Regions from separate parts of the Homo sapiens genome. Here region 2 is linked to region 1. Evidence: fine-mapped expression QTL. A gene starts in region 1. The other region holds a variant in brackets. All regions are shown on one strand. Distances are from middle to middle.

Region 1 (5,525 bases):
CTCTTCTGGATTGCTACAACAGCCTCGAAGGAGCTGGAGCTTCCTGCCTCCAGCCCCACCCAATCCATCCTCCACACTGGCTGGAATGAGATGATGCAAAGCTGATTTTAAATCCTGTCAAGGGCTCATGGGGACTCTCAGGCCAGAAACCTTGGTGGGCCCTGTAAAGCCCTTTGTGAGCTGGATCTAGCTCCCCTCTTCAGCCTCCTGTCTTGATACTCCCTGACCCCTTTCCATGCTTCCCTCACCTGCCCCCCATCCACCCCTTGTCCCTAAACTCCAGCTAGATTTAGTTTAATCCAATGATCTCAACTAAATCACCTCTGAACTTTGCACATGCTGTTCTCTGGAAAACTGTCCCCATCATCATTCTCCTTCTACAGGGCTAACTCCATGTCGAGCTCTACTACTCATCACTTTCTTCAGGAAGCTTTTGCTGACCTTCCCAGATCGGTGTAGGAGCCCCTCCTTCCTGCGTCTTCCCCAGCACTTCAGGGGACTTGTCAGTTTCCCCCTCCACCAGACTGAAAGCTTTGCACCAGGGATCAGGTCTGCCTCCTTATTTACTATATTCTAGGCACTAGGCACAAGCTAGCCTATAAAAGGTGCTCCATAAATATTTGTTGAACGAATGAATGACCTCAGTACAGATCAGGGTGGCTAGTCATGACTCGACTGGAGTGTCCCCCGGCCTGCTGAGATTTGGAGGACCAGGGCAAGCTGTTGTAGCCACTCACACTGCAACCAAGAGACGCCGCAACTCGGTCCCTCGCCTGCTTTGTGCGTTCGGGAGCAGGGAGAGGCCAGGGAAGCTGGGTCCCTCGCGGCAGGTCCTAAAGGTATTGAATAATGCGCCGGTGCGGTTCCCAGCCCTGATGCCGTTTAGCTGGGTGACCCTGAGCTCGTTCCAGGAGCCCTAGGAATAGCGGAAGGTGGGGCAGGGGAACTATTCCTTAATCCCCTGAGCTCTGGGAAGACAGACCTCTCTCTGACACTTCCCCGCCCCTTTCACCTGACAAGCCAGGGCCTCCAGCTCCTCTGGCCCAGCAGCCGAGACCCAGCCTCGCGGCGGCCTCCAGCTTAATCCGCTGTTGGGGCTGGAAAGGGGCGTGTCTTTGTAGGGACAGAAGGGGTCCGAGGAGTTCCCGGCACTTTCCCACCCGCTGTTTGGTTTTCCTGGAGATGGGCCTGGGGCTGGCCAGGCGGAGGCTCCTTCCCCCCGCCTCCCTCCCACGTGGCCTGGCTGAGTCTCTCTGGAAAGCCGCAGCAGCTGGAGAGAAATCCCCCTCCCCACCCCCACCTCCAAGTCCCTCCCCGACTCTCCCCGGACACATCCTCAGCTCCCCCCTCCGCGGGGAAGGCAAGAACTAGGCGAACAAAGCGGCCAGCCCATCCCCCTCCCAGCCCTGCCACCTACACTCCCCATGAGCCGCCCCCAAACGCACACCGGACAGGAAGCGACAGAGCTGTGGGTGGAAGCCGCAGCCCTAGACACACACCCTTGGGGACTTCGCTATCCCCTCCCCAGCCCTTTCTCCAGCTTGGACAACTCTGACTTACCCCGTACCCACTCCGCACTGGGCTGCGGACTGGATGAGGCCCTGCTGACCTCGTCCACGCTTCCCTGGTCGGTCCCTGGGGGGTGGGGCCGGGGTGACACGCGTCCCATCGTGAGAACAAGCGCTGGACATGTCCACGAAAGCAAATGGTTTCCTGCCCCCTCCCCCAGTCCACTGCTGGCCACAGGTTTTGGGGAGCAACACCTCCCTCTACCCCTCTCTAACCGGCCCCAGGGACCACACCCACTGGGCAAAGTTGAGTGTTGTTTTATCACCACCACCCCCAGTCAAACGGGATCCATCGCTCTGTCCCCCACTATGGGCAAGGACACTTCCCAAATGCCAAGGCCAAATATTAGCTCAGCCCCATAAACACAATTGCACACGCACCCGACCCAAATGGAGGTGCAGACACAACCCCAGTTCCCTCCTCTTTTACACACACTCTCAACCCAAGACACGCGCAGGCAAGGCAGAGCCCGCCCCGCGAAAGCCACCGACACCGCAGCTACCCGCCCCGCCGATGCCACGCCGCGACCATGGCACGCACTGCGGACACGACAGGAGCACTCCCAACACACACACACACACACACACACACACACACACACACGACTCCAGACTCTGCGAACCAAAGGCACACACCCACTGCGGACAAGCACGCCCCACAAACGCCCCCCGGCCGCAGCTCGCAGACCCCCGCGCAGGCATCGCGGGCACCTGGACGCGCAGCCCCCGCACTTGCTCGGGACTCCGGCTTGAGCCAGCCCCGCAGCCCGATGCAGACCAGGGCGCGGGCGCACCAGCACTCCGCAGTCGCTCCTGCCTCTCCGGGCGCCCGCCCTTACCGCGCGCGGCCAACAGGCAGAAGGTCAACGCGAGGAGCCCGCGGCCGCGGCCGGCGTCCCCCCGCGCCATGGGGCTGGGCTCGGGCCGCCGCCGCCGCCGCCGCCTCCCCGTGCTTCGGCCGCCGCCGCGGGGGGAGAGCGCGCCGGGCGTCAGTGGCCCGGGGAGGCGCGGCGCCGCGGGCGGGGGCGCGGCCTCGGGGGCCCGGGCCCGAGCTGGGGCCGGCGCGGGGGCCAGGGCCGCTGCCGCCTCACCCGCCCCTCCATCGCCATCTTGGGCGAGCGGCCCGGGAGGGGGCGCCCGGCGAGTGTGGCCACCCTGGCCCCGCCGGGGACCCTGCGCCCGCGCGCCACGGCCCTGCGCCTCGCGGGGGCTCCTCTCGGCCCGGGTCTGTGTCCCGGTGCCTCGCCCTCTCCGGGTCGCCGCGGGCCCCCGTGAGGCCGCCTGTTGCTGGGTCTGTCTCTTAGTCTCCCCGTCTCTGAGTCTTCTGGTCTCTCTGCCTCAGCGTCTCTATTTCTTCTCCCTGTTGCTGCCTCGGGGTCTCCACCTCCGTTCCAGGCTCAGGGGAGGCAGATTCAGGGCCACGGTCTTTGTCCAGATGGCCCCCTTGCCACCCGAGCCCAGTCCATTCCAGCCCAGGTCCTGGCCTGAATGCTGGTTCGCTTCTCCACACGTTGCGCCAGCCCACCTGCGGAGATCTTGATAGTCCTATCTGCCATCCCAAACCAAGGGCTTCTCTTGGCCTCCTTCCCTTGCTCTGGCAGTAACTAACACAGGCAGGACACTTTTACACTACCTTCAAGCACTACCATATTCAGATGTCGCCGCATGGGGAAACTGAGGCTGGAGAAGGTGAAGTGACTTGCCCAAGGACAGGAGGCTAGGGAGCAGCAGATACAGGACCTGAACCTTGGTTTTCTGACTTCGGAAGGTCATCTCCACTCCCTCACCCTGCCTCTGCTGTCCAGCATTTACTGAAGTACCCTTTTTCTCATTCTTCAACGGTACTTTCTCTAACCTACCTAGCCAGACTGTTTGCCTCAGTATCCCGCAAATATTTCTTGTTCTACAGCCAAGGGTTCAATTGTCAGGCTAGGGTGGGGAAAAGAGTACAGATTCAATGACCTAGTTAAGGTCCTTTCCAACTCCAAGATGCCATAGTTCTTCCCTTCCCTGTGTCTCTAAGTGTTCCTGTGACTTAGAGCCATCTTGTCTCTACACCTGTCTGTTGTCAGTTAACCCTCAATAATCACTGGCGCTTTGCATATCTAACAGGCCTGGCGTTTATTCATTCATTGCCACGCCCCATCTTCACTTGCCCTATCAGCAGCATTTGACTTAGTGAATCACTCCCTCTTCCTTGAAACACTTGCTTCCCTTAGTGATCTCATCTGGTCCTCAAGGCTTTAAAGAGCATCTTTATGCTAATGATGCCCAAATGTATACTTTCAGCCTAGACCATCTTTCCTGAACCCTGGACTTCTGTATCCAGCCATCCAGGCCCCAGTTCCTTTAGCTGTCTAGTAGACAAACTCATCCTGATCTTTTCTATCAATCTTTCTCCTCCCACAGTCTTCCTCATCTCAGTTCCTTTCCTGTTGCCCAGGTCAAAAATGTAGAGGCCAGGCTTGGTGGCTTACGCCTGTAATCCCAGCACTTTGGGAGGCCGAGGTGGGAGGATCGCTTGAGGCCAGGAGTTCAAGACCAACCTGGCCAGCATAGCGAGACCCCCATTTCTATTAAAAAAAAATGTAGAGTCATCTCCTACTCTTCATGTTCAGATGCTTCACCCTCCACTTTCTCACTGTGGCCTTGGTCCAAGACCCGTCGCCTCTCACCTGGATTGTCACAGCAAACTCCTCACTGATCTTTTTCTGTCCTTGTCCTCCTTGAGTGTTTTCTCAATACAGCAGCCAGAGTGCTCCTGTTAAAATGAGATCATGCCACTTCTCTGCTAGAAACCCACCAGCGGCTCCTATGTCAGAGCAAAAGCCAAAGTCCTTATTGTGACCCACAAGGCCTATCTGATCTGTAGGCTTGCTCTACCTCTCTGACCTCCCCTTCGACACCACCCCCTGTGCTCACCACCTCTCCAGCCACACCATCCTCCTTGCTGTAACTTGATCGCGGGCAGCCTCCTCCCCTCCAGCCTCAAGACCTTTGTCCGGCCAGTGCAAGTCTAGAGATCTGTTCCCTCATACTGGATACCATAAAGGCTTTCTCACAGCCTCACCCCCTACTCTTCCTATCCTCCTTCCCTGCTGTCTATTCTTGTCTTTAACTGTCACTTTCTTTTTTATTTTATTTTCTTTCTTTTTCTCTTCTTTTTTTTTTTTTTTTGAGACAGAGTCTTACTCTGTCCCCCAGGCTGGAGGGCAGTGGCTCACTGCAACCTCCGCCTCCTGGGTTCAAGTGATTCTTGGGTCTCAGCCTCTCAAGTAGCTAGGACTACATGCCCAGCTAACTTTTTGTACTTTTAATAGAGACGGGGTTTCATCATTTGGTCAGGCTGGTCTCGAACTCCTGACCTCAAGTGATCCACCTGCCTTGGATCCCAAAGTGTTGGGATTACAGGCGTGAGCCAGCACGCCTGGCCAACACTTGTCACTTTCTTTTTTTCTTTCTTTTTTTTTTTGAGATAGAGTCTTGCTCTGTCGCCCAGGCTGGAGTGCAGTGACACGATCTCAGCGCAGTGCAACCTCCGCCTCCTGGTTTCAAGAGATTCTCCTGCCTCAGCCTCCCGAGTAGCTGTGACTACAGGTGCCTGCCACCATGCCCGACTAATTTTTTGTATTTTTAGTAGAGACGGGGTTTCACCATGTTGGCCAAGCTAGTCTTGAACTCCTGACCTCAGGTGATCCACCTGCCTCGGCCTTCCAAAGTGCTGGGATTACAGGCATGAGCCACTGCGCCCGGCCAACACTTGTAACTTACTAATATGCTCTACATTTTACTTATTTTCGATCTGTTCCCCCACCCCTCACAATCACAATGTGTGCTTCATGAGGACAGGGATTTTTGTTTGCTAGGTTCACTGCTGAATGCTAAGCACCTAAATCAGTATCTCACACTGTGTAGGTGCCAGGGGACCTGGATAAAAAATACAAGTCCCTGCCCACA
Region 2 (5,000 bases), 39 kb after region 1:
GCAGTGGCTCACGCCTGTAATCCCAGCACTTTGGGAGGCCGAGGTGGGTAGATCACCTGAGGTCAGGAGTTCGAGACCATCTTGGCCAACATGGTGAAACCCCATCTCTACTAAAAATATAAAAATTAGCCAGGTATGGTGCTGCGCACCTGTAGTCCCAACTACTCAAGAGGCTGAGGCAAAAGAATTGCTTGAACCTGGGAGGTGGAGGTTGCAGTGAGCCGAGATCGTGCCACTGCGCCCCAGCCTAGGCAACACAGCGAGACTCCATCTCAAAAAAAAAAAAATTGTTTTAATTGAATTGGCTAACATTTTTTAAATTATGGTAAAATATATATAAAATTTACCATTTCAACCATTTTAAGCATACAATTCAATGACATTAAATATATTCATGCTGCTGTGTAACCATCACCACTATCCATTTCCAGAACTTTTTCATCACCCAAACAGAAATTCTGTACCCATTAATAACTTCCAGACAGGCATGGTGGGTTACGTCTGTAATACCAGCACTATGGGAGGCTGACGCGGGTGGATCATTTGAGGTCAGGAGTTCGAGACCAGCCTGGCTAACATGGTGAAACCCTGTCTCTACTAAAAATACAAAAAATTAGCCAGGCATGGTGGTGCACGCCTGTAATCCCAGCTACTAGGGACGCTGAAGCAGGAGAATCGCTTGAACCCAGGAGGTGGAGGAGGCAGTGAGCTGAGATCATGCCTCTGCATTATAGCCTGGAAGACAGAGCGAGACTGTCTCAAAAACAAAGAATCAAACAAACAAAGCACTCAAACACTCCCCATCCTCCTTCCATCCAGTCCCTGACAACTTCTATTCTACTTTCTATCCCTATGAATTTGCCTATTATAGGTACCTCATACAGGTGGAATAATATTTGTCCTTTTGTGTCTGGCAATAATTATTTCACTTAGCATAATGCCCTCTAGGTTCATCAGTGTTATACTATATGTCAGAACATCCTCCTTTTTAAGGCTGAATAAAATAATATTCCGTTGTATGTATAGACCACATTTTGTTTATCCATTCATCTGTTGATGGACACGTGCACTGCCTTTTGGCTATTGTGCATAATGCTGCTATGGCTATGGCTGTATAAGTATCTGTTCCTGTCCATATTTTCAATTCTTCTGGGTATATACCAAGAAGTGGAATTTCTGGCTCATATAGTAATTCTATGTTTGACATTTTGAGGAAATGCCATACTGTTTTCCACAGCAGCTATAACATTTTATATTCTCACCAGCAATGAACCAGGCAGGGTTCCAATTCCTCTACATCTTGTACAGCACTTAATATTTTCCTCTTTTTGATAACAGCCAATCCAATGGGTGTGAACTGGTATCTCACAGTGGCTTTGATTTGCATTTCCCTAATGACTAGTCATATTGAGCATCTTTTCATGTGGCTAAGCCTCTTTAAACTTAATTACTCATATAAGGAATCCTTTAAATCTTTTTCTTGAGACAGGATCTTGCTCTGTCACCCAGGCTGGAGTATAGCGGCATGATTATGACTCACTGCAACCTCGAACTCCTGGGCTCAGGGGATCCTCCTGCCTCAGCCTCTTGAGTAGATGGGACTGCAGGCATGAGCCACCACGCCTAGCTAACTTTATTTTTCTGTAGAGACGGGGTCTCACTTTGTTGCTCAGGCTTGTCTCCCAACTCCTAGGCTCAAGTGATCCTCCCTCCCAAATTGCTGAGATTACAGTTATGAGCCACTACACCCAGCCTAATCTTTAAAATCTAGTTTTTAGAATGTCTTTTAACAATCCTATATACTGTATCATTTCTTCACTGGGAGGGGAAAATCTTCTTATTTAGTCTTACCATCAAAATAATTTAACAAATGTATAAAGCTTGAGAGTGTCCTATGATTTTTCTCTTGAGTTGCTTTCTATTAAGCCTTTTTTTTTTTTGAGACAGAGTCTCGCTGTGTTGTCCAGGCCGGAGTGCAGTGGTACGATCTTGGCTCACTGCAACCCTCCAGCACCTGGGTTCAAACGATTCTCCTGCCTTAGCCTCCCAAGTAGCTGGGACTATAGGCACTTGCCACCACTGGCTAATGTTTGTATTTTTAGTAGACACAGGGTTCCACTATGTTGGCCAGGCTGGTCTTGAACCTCTGACCTCATGATCCGCCTGCCTTGGCCTCCCAAAGTGCTGGGATTACAGGCTTGAGCCATCGCGCACAGCCGACCGTTTTTTTTTTTTT[A/T]AAGTTTACAAATATTTGACTTCAAGCTTTAACCAGAAGTCTAAAATTTAACTTCCTTTCTTTCTTTTTTGAGACAGGGTCTTACTCTGTTGCCTGGGCTGCAGTGTAGTGGCACAATCTCAGCTCACTGCAACCTCCACCTCCCAGGTTCGAGCAATTCTCCTGCCTCAGTCTCCCTAGTAGCTGGGATTACAGGTGTCTGCCACTGCGCCCGACTAATTTTTGTATTTTTAGTAGAGACAAGGTTTCGCCATGTTGGCCAGGCTGGTCTTGAACTCCTGACCTCAGGTGATCCTGCTGCCTCAGCCTCCCAAAGTGCTGGGATTACAGGCTTGAGCCACAGCGCCCGGCTAACTCTTTCATGACTTGTGTAGATGAAAATACAAATGTCAATCATATTTTGTTTGTAAACACACTTGATGGCAAAGTGATTTAGAGATTTTATGGTTTATGTAGTTATTTTACTTTTTTTGTGTACAATTTGGTATGTAGATACATTTCCAGATACTAAATAACTGGGTATAATTATTAAAGGGTATTACTGAATCTAAGGATTGCATTATGAAAAGACTGTAATTATATTTTAATTTCTTCCAAGGCTCAGTGTAGGATATATAATCAAGAATAAACAATTTTAAAATTTAGCAATTAACCAATACACCCATCCAAAATATATATATTTTGGACAGAGTCTCGCTCTGTCACCAGGCTGGAGTACAGTGGCACTATCTCGGCTCACCGCAACCTCTGACTCCCTGGTTCAAGCGATTCTCCTGCCTCAGCCTCCCAAGTAGCTGGGATTTTAGGCACGCACTACCACGCCCAGCTAATTTTTATATTTTTAGTAGCGATAGGGTTTCATCATTGTTGGCCAGGATGGTCTCGATCTCCTGACCTTGTGATCTGCCCACCTCGGCCTCCCAAAGTGCTGGGATTACAGGCGTGAGCCACTGCGCCTGGCCAAAATATTTCACTCCAATAGTCAAAGCATTTACTTAACAGTCATTGGCTAATACTTAATCCAGAATAAGGAAAATCAAGGTATAAACTTCTTACAGTGCTAAATAGTAGTATAGCAGTTGCCTTAACTAGCTGATAAAAATATTTTAATTTGCTTGAGAGACACAGCTTTAGAATGAAGAGGGAGAATTCACTAGGCTACCAAAGCTTTCTAAAAATATCTGTTAAGACTCTTTTGATTTACCAAGACATTTAATTATTTCATTTTATTTCCCAAACAAGTTTCTCTACATAGAAAGCAACATATTTACCTACTGACATGAACACCGCACTCCTCACAGAACTATAGTCCACACTGCAAATTAAGGAACTGCCTTAGTGGCAGGGCACGGTGGCTCACGCCTGTAATCCCAACACTTTGGGAGCCTGAGGCGGGTGGGTCACTTGAGGTCAGGAGTTGGAGACCAGCCTGACCAACATGGTGAAATCCCATGTCTACTAAAAATATTTTAAAAATTAGCTGGGCATGGTGATGTATGCCTGTAATCCCAGCTACTTGGGAGGCTGAGGCAGAAGAATCACTTGAACCTGGGAGGCGGAGGTTGCAGTGAGCCGACATTGCGCCATTGTACTTCAGCCTGGGCAACAAGAGCAAAACTCCATCTCAAAAAAAAAAAAAAGACTCAGTGATTTACAAATTAAACCTCCAACAAAAACCAGTTTCCTGACCCCCTAAACTGAATAATTGGAATATAAGACGGAGTCATTAAAAGCAAATGCCCAACAATGCTCAAAATCTTAAACTGACTAGACATTTAAAAAACAAAAGATCTAAAATACATATGCATATGGGTGTATGTATATATGTATATAAATATGCCCACCTGAGGACCACCATATATGAACAGCACAGTAGGATATTTCTTTCCAGGCTGTAGATCATGAGGCTTGTAGAGCATCCCATACAATGTAAATCCAGTAGTACTTTCAAAAGAGAAAATTTCTGGAGGAGTATAGTCAGGAAGAGGACCTGTGAATAGGTAACATAACAGAGTCTACAAAAGAGTTCTTATGGGAGTGCTACAATCTGGGAACAAGAAACAAGATATTAAAAGTCAGCCCCGCCAACACAAACTGACCACCCCTCTTTCAGATGATAAGCTAGAATTTAAGCAAGAGTATATTCATCTTTAAAAACAAAACTAGGCCGGGCGCAGTGGCTCATGCCTGTAATCCCAGCACTTTGGGAGGCCGAGGCAGGTGGATCACAAGGTCAGGAGTTTGAGACCATCCTGGCTAACACGGTGAAACCCCGCCTCTACTAAAAATACAAAAAATTAGCTGGGCATGGTGGCAGGCGCCTGTAGCCCCAGCTACTCGGGAGGCTGAGGCAGGAGAAGGGTGTGAACCCGGGAGGTGGAGCTTGCAGTGAGCTGAGATCACGCCACTGCACTCCAGCCTGGGTGACAGAGCGAGACTCCATCTCAAAAAAATAAATAAATAATTTAAAAAAAACAAAACTAGGCCAGGCACGGTGGCTCACACCTACAATCCTAGCATTTTGGGAGGCTGAGGTGGGTGGATTGCTTGAGCCCAAGAGTTTGTGACCAGCCTGGGTGGCATGGCAAAACCCTGTCTCTACAAAAAAATACAAAAATTACCCAGGCATGGAGGTGTGCTCCTGTAGTCCCAGCTACTCAGGAGGCTGAGGCAGGAAGATTGACTGAGCCCAGGAGGTTGAGGCTACATTGAGCTGTGCCCTGTGACTGCGCCACTGCACTCCAGCCTGAGCGACAGAACAAGA

Direction of the effects. Alleles are on the strand shown, and positions count from the first base shown. SD is a standard deviation of normalised expression in the study named.
With allele A in place of T in region 2, the expression in esophagus mucosa of the gene that starts at base 2,562 in region 1 is lower (moderate effect, 0.52 SD a copy in GTEx).

The links. PIP is the estimated chance that this variant, and not a neighbour inherited with it, causes the effect.
Region 2: its variant is the best candidate, but not a certain one, in a credible set for the expression of IGDCC4 in esophagus mucosa (GTEx, PIP 0.84).

What each region holds. Positions count from the first base shown.
Region 1 is chr15:65,420,386-65,425,910 of GRCh38, forward strand. It overlaps IGDCC4 (immunoglobulin superfamily DCC subclass member 4), which reads right to left and starts at 2,562. Exons shown (of 20, transcript NM_020962.3): 1 at 2,408-2,562. The coding sequence starts at 2,477. RefSeq lists enhancers at 1,465-1,574, 1,595-1,864, 2,840-3,374.
Region 2 is chr15:65,459,681-65,464,680 of GRCh38, forward strand. It overlaps DPP8 (dipeptidyl peptidase 8), which reads right to left. Exons shown (of 20, transcript NM_130434.5): 15 at 4,081-4,226. Among named protein-coding and RNA genes, the nearest start is that of IGDCC4, 39 kb to the left of the region's middle. The variant A/T (reference allele first, on the strand shown) is at 2,237.